2 linked regions of the Homo sapiens genome follow. The protein of the gene in region 1 purifies or fractionates together with the protein of each later gene. This does not show direct contact. Each region holds a gene or a part of one and is shown in the gene's direction. Other genes may lie near its edges. The genes, in order: XRN1 and UPF1.

Region 1 (3,920 bases):
AGCTATTGAAGAGAAATGAAAGTCCAGAAGTCTCAGAAACCCAAAAGGTTGTGACTGGTTATCCAAATGCTATTGATAAGGTAAAAAACTATTTATTCCAATTCTCTTCCCAAACTTTAACACCTGGGAAGATGATTGAGTGAAAATCGAATGACCATTTTTGTACATAAAACTCAGCTTTTTGTGTGTTCTTGTATTATACGTTCATCTTCATGCCCAAAATATTTATTCTTTTAGCCTAACTCTGGAATTGAGAACTTTTTAGCATCTTTGAATATCTCCAAAGAAAATGAAGTACAGTCATCTCATCATGGGGAGCCTCCAAGTGAAGAGCATTTGTCACCACAGTCATTTGCCATGGTTCGTATTTTGTAGGAACTTTCTTACTGTGGTAATTTCTCGACTGTTGACCATGCAGACATATCCCATGCAAGTGTTCAAACACTTCCATCATGGAGGCTGGTATGTTACATCATTATTGTCATCTTGTGAGGAAACCAGGCTGCCCTGGGCAATTTAGCCATACTTTTTCTCTTTAGACCACAGTTCCCCTGCTTTTCAAACATTGCTACTAGGTAACTGGGATGAAAGTTAAGCAGGAGGATAAGTATCGTTTCTGTATCAGAAATGTGGGTGTTGGGTTTTTTTTTTTCAGTTTCTATCTGAATGTAGTTAATGTCTTAATTGTTAACAATGGAATTCTTTCCAAGAAAGATCAATAAGTTCTACAGATGTAATGTTGACTTTGTTCTCTTCACCCTCACCATCTCCATGTGAATCATTTTCAAAAAGAAGGGAACACGGATGCTTAAAGAAATTCTAAAAATTGATGGCTCTAACACTGTGGACCATAAGAATGAAATCAAACAGATTGCTAATGAAATCCCTGTTTCCTCTAACAGAAGAGATGAATATGGATTACCCTCTCAGCCTAAACAAAATAAGAAATTAGGTAAGTAAACTAAATACTATTACCAATAATATCATTTTAAAAATTCAATTCATTTGGTTCTTTTTAATCATGTACTTTTAAAGATAAAACTGCTTTTATTTTAATGTATTTATTTATTTTAGAGATGGTGTCTTGCTGTGTTGGCCAGGCTGGTCTCAAACTTCTGACCTCAAGCAATCCTCTCACTTCAGCCTCCCAAAGTGCTGGGATTACAGGTATATGCCACCACACCTGGCCCAAAACTACTTTTATTCTTAAAACTATAATTTTTATATTTGTTTCAGTTATATAATAATATAACTGGCCAGGTGTGGCTCATGCCTGTAATCTCAGAACTTTGGGAAGCTGAGGCAGGCGGATCTCTTAAGCTCAGGAGTTCAAGACCAGCCTGGGCAACATGGCGGAAACTCTGTCTCTCTAAAAAATACAAAAGTTAGCTAGGTGTGGTGGCGTGTGCCTGTAGTCCCAGCTACTGGGGAGGCTGACGTGGTAGGATTGCTTGAGCCTTGGAGGCAGAGGTTGCAGTGAGCCAAGATCACGCCACTGCACTCTAACCTGGGCAACAGAGATAGACCCTGTCTCAAAAAACAAAAAGAACAATAATAATACAACCATGTAACCAATAGATCTACAGTCACTAAATGTCTTCTTGTGATTACTTAATTGTAGTGTTATAGATAATCATTCTGTAGACATCCAAACCTTTAAAAGTTTGCACATTCTAGCTTTTGTCCTCAGTAATTTAAAAATTATCATGTAACTTAAATACATTATTTAACTTTTCTGAAATCTTGTTTCTTATTTATAAAATAAGAATAATACATTACAGATTACTTGTGGTAATTATATAACATGTATAAATATAAAACAGCACTATGTCCAACACATTGTAGGTGCTAATAATTGATATTAATATTATGTTAAAATAACCTAACTGTTGTAAAAATAGAAAAATCTACAAAATCAATTAAAAATCATTAATAGAGTTAGATATAGGAAAGTGAGTCATACTCTTAAGTCTGTAAAGCCTATAGCATAACATCTGGCACATAACTGGATTTCAGTAAATATCCGCCATATTTGTTCCTACCCTGAATGTCCTCTATACTTTAGCATTTTATCTGTATAATGATCTACTAAAGGCAGCCAGGAAGAATGACTGATACAAAAGTGGATGTGGGCAGAAGTTTCTCAGAGAAGTCAAAAACATTTTGGAATAAGCAGATCTAAGCGTATTAAAGATCAAAACCTGGAATTGGCTGGGCACGTTGGCCCACATCTGTAATGCCAGCACTTTGGGAGGCCAAGGCGGGTGGATCACCTGAGGTCAGGAGTTTGAGACCAGCCTGGCCAACATGGTGAAACCCCCTTTCTACTAAAAATACAAAAAATTAGCCGGGTGTGGTGGCAGGCGCCACCAAGTAGCTGTAATCCCAGCTACTTCAGAGGCTGAATCAGGAGAATCGCTTGAACCCGGGAGGTGGAGGTTGCAGTGAGCCAAGATCACGCCATCACACTCGAGCCTGGGCAACAAGAGCGAAACTCTGTCAAAACAAAAACAAAACCTGGAATAAAAGCAGAACCTAACCCCATTTATATTCCAGTGATAATTAATTAAAAATTCCAAAAAATATTAGGAACCTGATTATTTATTATAGTGACAGACATGGTCCTGAAATAGAACCAAATTAATTTTAAGACAAAATTAGATAAAGATGGTCCCATTGTCAAAAACAAGTAAGTTTTACTTTATTTCAGTATAGGAAAAAAAAAAAAAAAAACTCATAGGCTTTAGAGTCTTAGGGTCACTAGCTCAGAATCCAGCCCCTGTTATAGAACTAACTGGCTCTGTGACTTTGAGCAAGCCACTTAACTGCTTTTTTAATCTATATTAGTAAGAAGTTTGGATTAATTCTTCAATGAGGTATGCTTTTGTTCTATTAGTGAGTTTGTTAATCATAAAGAATGTGAACACTCAGAATTTTAAAATCATCTTCCATATAAAAACACTTAGAAGACAATTTCAAAAAAAACTTTTAAGAAATATTATTTCAGAGCCACAAAAATATTCATCCATGTGTCTCAGAATGTAAGGTGGAATTGCAAGAATTGAGGTGGAAGCCAAAACTTCAAAACTTAAGGATGAATTATATTTCAGCTCAAGAAAGCCATTTGTTTATTCATTCTTTTATTTTTCTCTTCTTACTTCTGCAAAACAAGAAAGCCATTTGTTTGTTCAAATTTTACCTGTAGCAGTACCATGTAGTCATTAGCTGCTCAAGGTTTTAATTTTTGGCAGTTAGGTACTTATATTTTAAAATCTTTATCTTAATAATTTATCATTAATCAATTATACTCATCCAAAAACCTTTACTGAAGTCACAATAATTTTAGGAAGTACTAAATAGTTGTTTATATGTGCTTCATGGAAGACTCATCTTTTTAATGCAGTTGGTGGCTCTATAGCGTCTAACTGAATTTTTCAAGGTTTTCGACCAAATTTATAAGGTGCGTGGCCAGAGGACCACTGAAGGTAAGCTGACAGTCACTTGGATGGCAGGTTGTACTGCTAGAGTCCAGGATTTGGAACTAGAGCCACCTGAAATCCTGATTCTGTTATTTAATAATGGGTGGCCTTGAGCAATTCACTTCACTTTTTAGCAGTTTCCTGCTTGCTCTTCTATAAAACCCTACAATAAGTGCATAATTTGAGATAGTATTTTATTAATAAAGATAGACTCTTTTCTCTTTTTTGGTAGCATCTTATATGAACAAGCCTCACAGTGCTAATGAGTACCATAATGTTCAGTCTATGGACAATATGTGTTGGCCTGCCCCCAGCCAGATCCCTCCTGTATCCACACCAGTAACTGAACTTTCTCGAATTTGTTCCCTTGTTGGAATGCCACAACCTGATTTCTCCTTTCTTAGGATGCCACAGGTATAGTATACTACTGTTCTATTTATA
Region 2 (3,920 bases), on another chromosome or scaffold:
CCGTGTAACCAGCTGTTAAGTTGGGGGCTCCTGGAAACTCTCATTCTGCTTTTTTAATTTTTATTTTACTGGGGAAGTGGCTATCAGCTGTCAAGTGCCCTGCAGTCACTTTTGCTTAGCGGCTTTATTGAAATAGAATTCACTTGCCACAACATACAATTTACCCATATAAAGTGTACAGTTCGGCGGCTTTTATTTAGTATATTCAGAGTTGTGCAGCCATTACCACAGTAAACTTTAGAACATTTTTGTCACCCCAGAGATAAACCCTGCACCCCTTAGCCCATCCGTCCTACCTCCACAGCCCCTGGCAACCACTCACCTGCTTTCTGTCTCAAGATGTGCCTGTTCTGGGCATTTCACATCAACGGAATCATATCATATATGGTGTTTTGTGTCTGGCTCCTTTCACTCTGCGTGATGTGTGAGAAGTAGCTACAAGGTGAGCTTCGTAGCTGTTCCCTGGCCGAGCATTCAGGAAAATGAACCTGATCGAGGTTCATCCACGCTGTGGTATGTGTCATCATTTCATTCCTTTTTTTTTTTTGAGACAGAGTCTCGCTCTGTTGCCCAGGCTGGGGTGCAGTGGCGTGATCTTGGCTCACTGCAACCTGTGCCTCCCAGGTTCAAGCGATTCTCCTGCCTCAGCCTCCCCAGTAGCTGGGATTACAGGTGCACACCACCATGCCCCGGCTAATTTTTGTATTTTTAGTAGAGACGGGGTTTCACCATGTTGGCCAGATGGTCTTGATTTCCTGACCATGTGGTCCACTTGCCTCGGCCTCCCAAAGTGCTGGGATTACAAGCATGAGCCACCGCACCTGGCCAGCATTTCATTCCTTTTTAAGGCTGAGTAATATTCCATGGGTGGAATGGTCCAGATGGATGGACCATGTTTTGTTTATCTCGTCATCTGTTGATGGACATTTGGGTTGTTTCCACCTCTTGGCTTTTGTGAATAGCACTGCTGTGGCCATGAGTGTACAGGTTTCTGCGTGGATGTGTTTATAGACCTGCTGGGCCGCGTAGTAACCTTGGGTTTAATGGTTTCAGTAACTGCAAGACTGTTTTCCAGTGTGTAGCCACTTTCCATACCAACCCTACCTGAACTGGTTTTGCGCAGTTGGTTTTCCCTTAATGTGTGTTGAAAGACAGTGTGTCCCCACCGGGATGGGAAAGTGGCAGCAGGGGTGACTCCCTGCACTCAGAGCTGGTTCAGATAACACTCCTTTTCTTGTTTATGAAATGAAACTGATATTTATCAAAGCCCTTGAGATCCTGGGATGAAAAGCGCTGACACAGTATTGCCAAGTGTCCTTAAGATACAGGGACAGTTTTCGAGCATCTGACCTTTTCCTGGGCCCTTCTCTGCTGCCACTTCTCCTGCTCCCAGGACAGTGAAGGTAATTTCAGAAGTCCTTTGCATAATAGCTGGTGTTACAAGCCTTTTGGTCTGCCTGGTTGGAATATTTCCTCTTGACTGTAGCTTCTGCCCTGGATCCTCCAAACGGGAACTAGAGTGAAACTCTTAAGAGTTGGAAATACTGCTCAGTATTAAGAAGGAACAAACTATTGATACCTGCAACAACATGGATGTGTCTCATAATAATTACTTTTTTGTATGTGTCATTCATCATATGATTTAATTCATAAAAAAATTCTAGAAATTGCCAGCTAGCCTGCAGCAATAGAAAGCAGACCAGTGGTGGCTGGACAGAAAGGTGGGAAAGGGGAGGCAGGTGACAAAGGGCACAGGAAACTTGGGGGTAATGGACGTTTTTATTATCGTGATTGTAGTGATAGTTTTATGGGTGTTTAAGTACATTGATGTATGTCAGTTTCTAAAATGGCACACTAAACATTTGCAGCTTATGGTATGTCAGTTATGCCTCAATGAAACTGGAAAGAAAAGTCAGGGAGATACCACTATCCACCCATTTTTTTTTTTTTTTTTTTTTGGAGACGGAGTCTCGCTCTGTTGCCTAGGCTGGAGTGCAGTGGCACAATCTTGGCTCACTGCAACCTCCACCTCCTGGGTTCAAGCGATTCTCCTGCCCTAGCCTCTCGAGTAGCTGGGACTACAGGTGTGTGCTACCATGCCCGGCTAATTTTTTGTATTTTTATAGAGGCAGGGTTTCACCATGTTAGTCAGGATGGTCTTGATCTCCTGACCTCGTGTTCCGCCCTCCTCTACCTCCTAAAGTGCTGGGATTACAGCCGTGAGCCACTGCGCCCAGCCTGCCATACTTTTTTTAAAAGGCTGAAAGTGCTACTTGGGTTTTTTGTTTTTGTTTTAAGGCAAAGTCTCATTCTGTCACCCAGGCTGTAGTGCAGTGGCGTTATCATGGGTCACTGCAGCCTCGACCTCCTGGGCTCAAGCGATCCTTCCACCTCAGCCTCCCAAGTAGCTGGGACTACAGGTGTGTGCCACCACGTCTGGCTGATTTTTCTTTTTTTGTAGAGATGGGGTTTTGCCATGTTACCCAGGCTGGTCTTGAACTCCTGGGCTCAAGAGATCCTCTCACCTCAGGCCTCCCAAGTGTTGGAATTACAGAGTGAGCCATTGAGCCTGGCAAAAGTGCTGCCTGGAACTCTCATGCCATACACCTACCTGTGACCTAGCAGAGATGAAGGTGTGTGTACGCAGGGCTGCGCCAAATGCTGACAGCATCTCTTCATGAGAACCCCAAACCGGAAGCAGCCCCAGTGGCCATCAGCAGATGAATGGGTAAACAAAGCAGTGTGTACATCCAGTGGGAAAAATGTGTGCCTATTGGTTTGAGTTGCTTTTCTTAGCTCACCTGAAAGTATGAGGTCTGTGGGTAGGTACAGACCTTTTAGGCAGCAACACGCATGTTTTTGTGCAGGTGCTCTGGGTGACCTTGTAGATAGATGCTGCTTGGTACTGGTCCCACTTTGTTCCTTCATCCTCAGGTCAGGTCTGCACTGCCTGTTCCGTCTCCACTCCTGGTAGCCTGTGGGAGTCACAGCTGAATAGTCATCTCGTACTGGGATTTTACTCTGAGTGCATGAGTTGTTTCCCTAGGAAAAACATGCTGTCTTTCTGGATCGTAAGGGACAACTAGCTAAAGCTCCTAGCCGACCTGTCGTCCAGCCCTCACTCTCCTCCTGCCAGACTTCTCTGTATTGCCTCCACTTCTCTGAGTGTGTAAACCTGGGCTCACTTTTCCTTTTGAAGTGGTAAAATACTCAGGATAGAAAGTTGCTACTTTGTCTTCAAAGCCATTGTCCTGACCTATCCTTGACTGTCCAGGTGAACACACCATCTTCTGCTGAGCCCTGAGATTATGACCAAGGCGGGGTGAGTTCCATACAGTCTTGGGTTCCGAAAAGTGGTGAGTTTAAAATCTGCACATGTAGCTGGGCACGATGGCCCATGCCTGTAATCCCAGTACTTTGGGAGGCTGAGGCAGGCAGATCATTTGAGCTCAGGAGTTTGAGACCAGCCTGGGCAAAATGTCCATGATCGCACCACTGCACTCCAGCCTGGGTGACAGAGTGAGACCTTGTCTTAATAAAAAGAAGAAAATCCAGGCCGGGCTTGGTGGCTCACGCCTGTAATCTCAGCACTTTGAGAGGCAGAGGCAGGTGAATCACCGGAGGTCAGGAGTTCCAGACCAGCTTGACCAACATGGAGAAATCCTGTCTCTACTAAAAATACAAAATTAGCTGGGTATAGTGGCACATGCCTGTAATCCCAGTTACTTGGGAGGCTGAGGCAGGAGAATCGCTTGAACCCGGGAGGTGGAGGTTGCGGTGAGCTGAGATTGTGCCATTGCACTCCAGCCTGGGCAACAAGAGCAAAACTCCATCTTAAAAAAAAAAAATGCTCATGACTTCATTTTGGCTTTTTGAATCCTCTGGTAGCCCAGGTGTGGTTTTAGGGTGCCAGAACATTG

What was found.
Region 2: the proteins of XRN1 (region 1) and UPF1 purify together in Homo sapiens (affinity purification with western blotting; 4 studies listed by BioGRID and IntAct, with this or other methods). This does not show direct contact.

What each region holds. Positions count from the first base shown.
Region 1 is NC_000003.12:142,329,407-142,333,326, reverse strand, and holds part of XRN1 (5'-3' exoribonuclease 1), read left to right. Parts: intron 1-237; coding exon 238-360; intron 361-792; coding exon 793-952; intron 953-3,689; coding exon of another isoform or gene 3,690-3,711; coding exon 3,712-3,893; intron 3,894-3,920. UniProt on the Homo sapiens protein: Major 5'-3' exoribonuclease involved in mRNA decay. Required for the 5'-3'-processing of the G4 tetraplex-containing DNA and RNA substrates. The kinetic of hydrolysis is faster for G4 RNA tetraplex than for G4 DNA tetraplex and monomeric RNA tetraplex.
Region 2 is NC_000019.10:18,834,813-18,838,732, forward strand, and holds part of UPF1 (regulator of nonsense transcripts 1), read left to right. Parts: intron 1-3,920. UniProt on the Homo sapiens protein: RNA-dependent helicase required for nonsense-mediated decay (NMD) of aberrant mRNAs containing premature stop codons and modulates the expression level of normal mRNAs.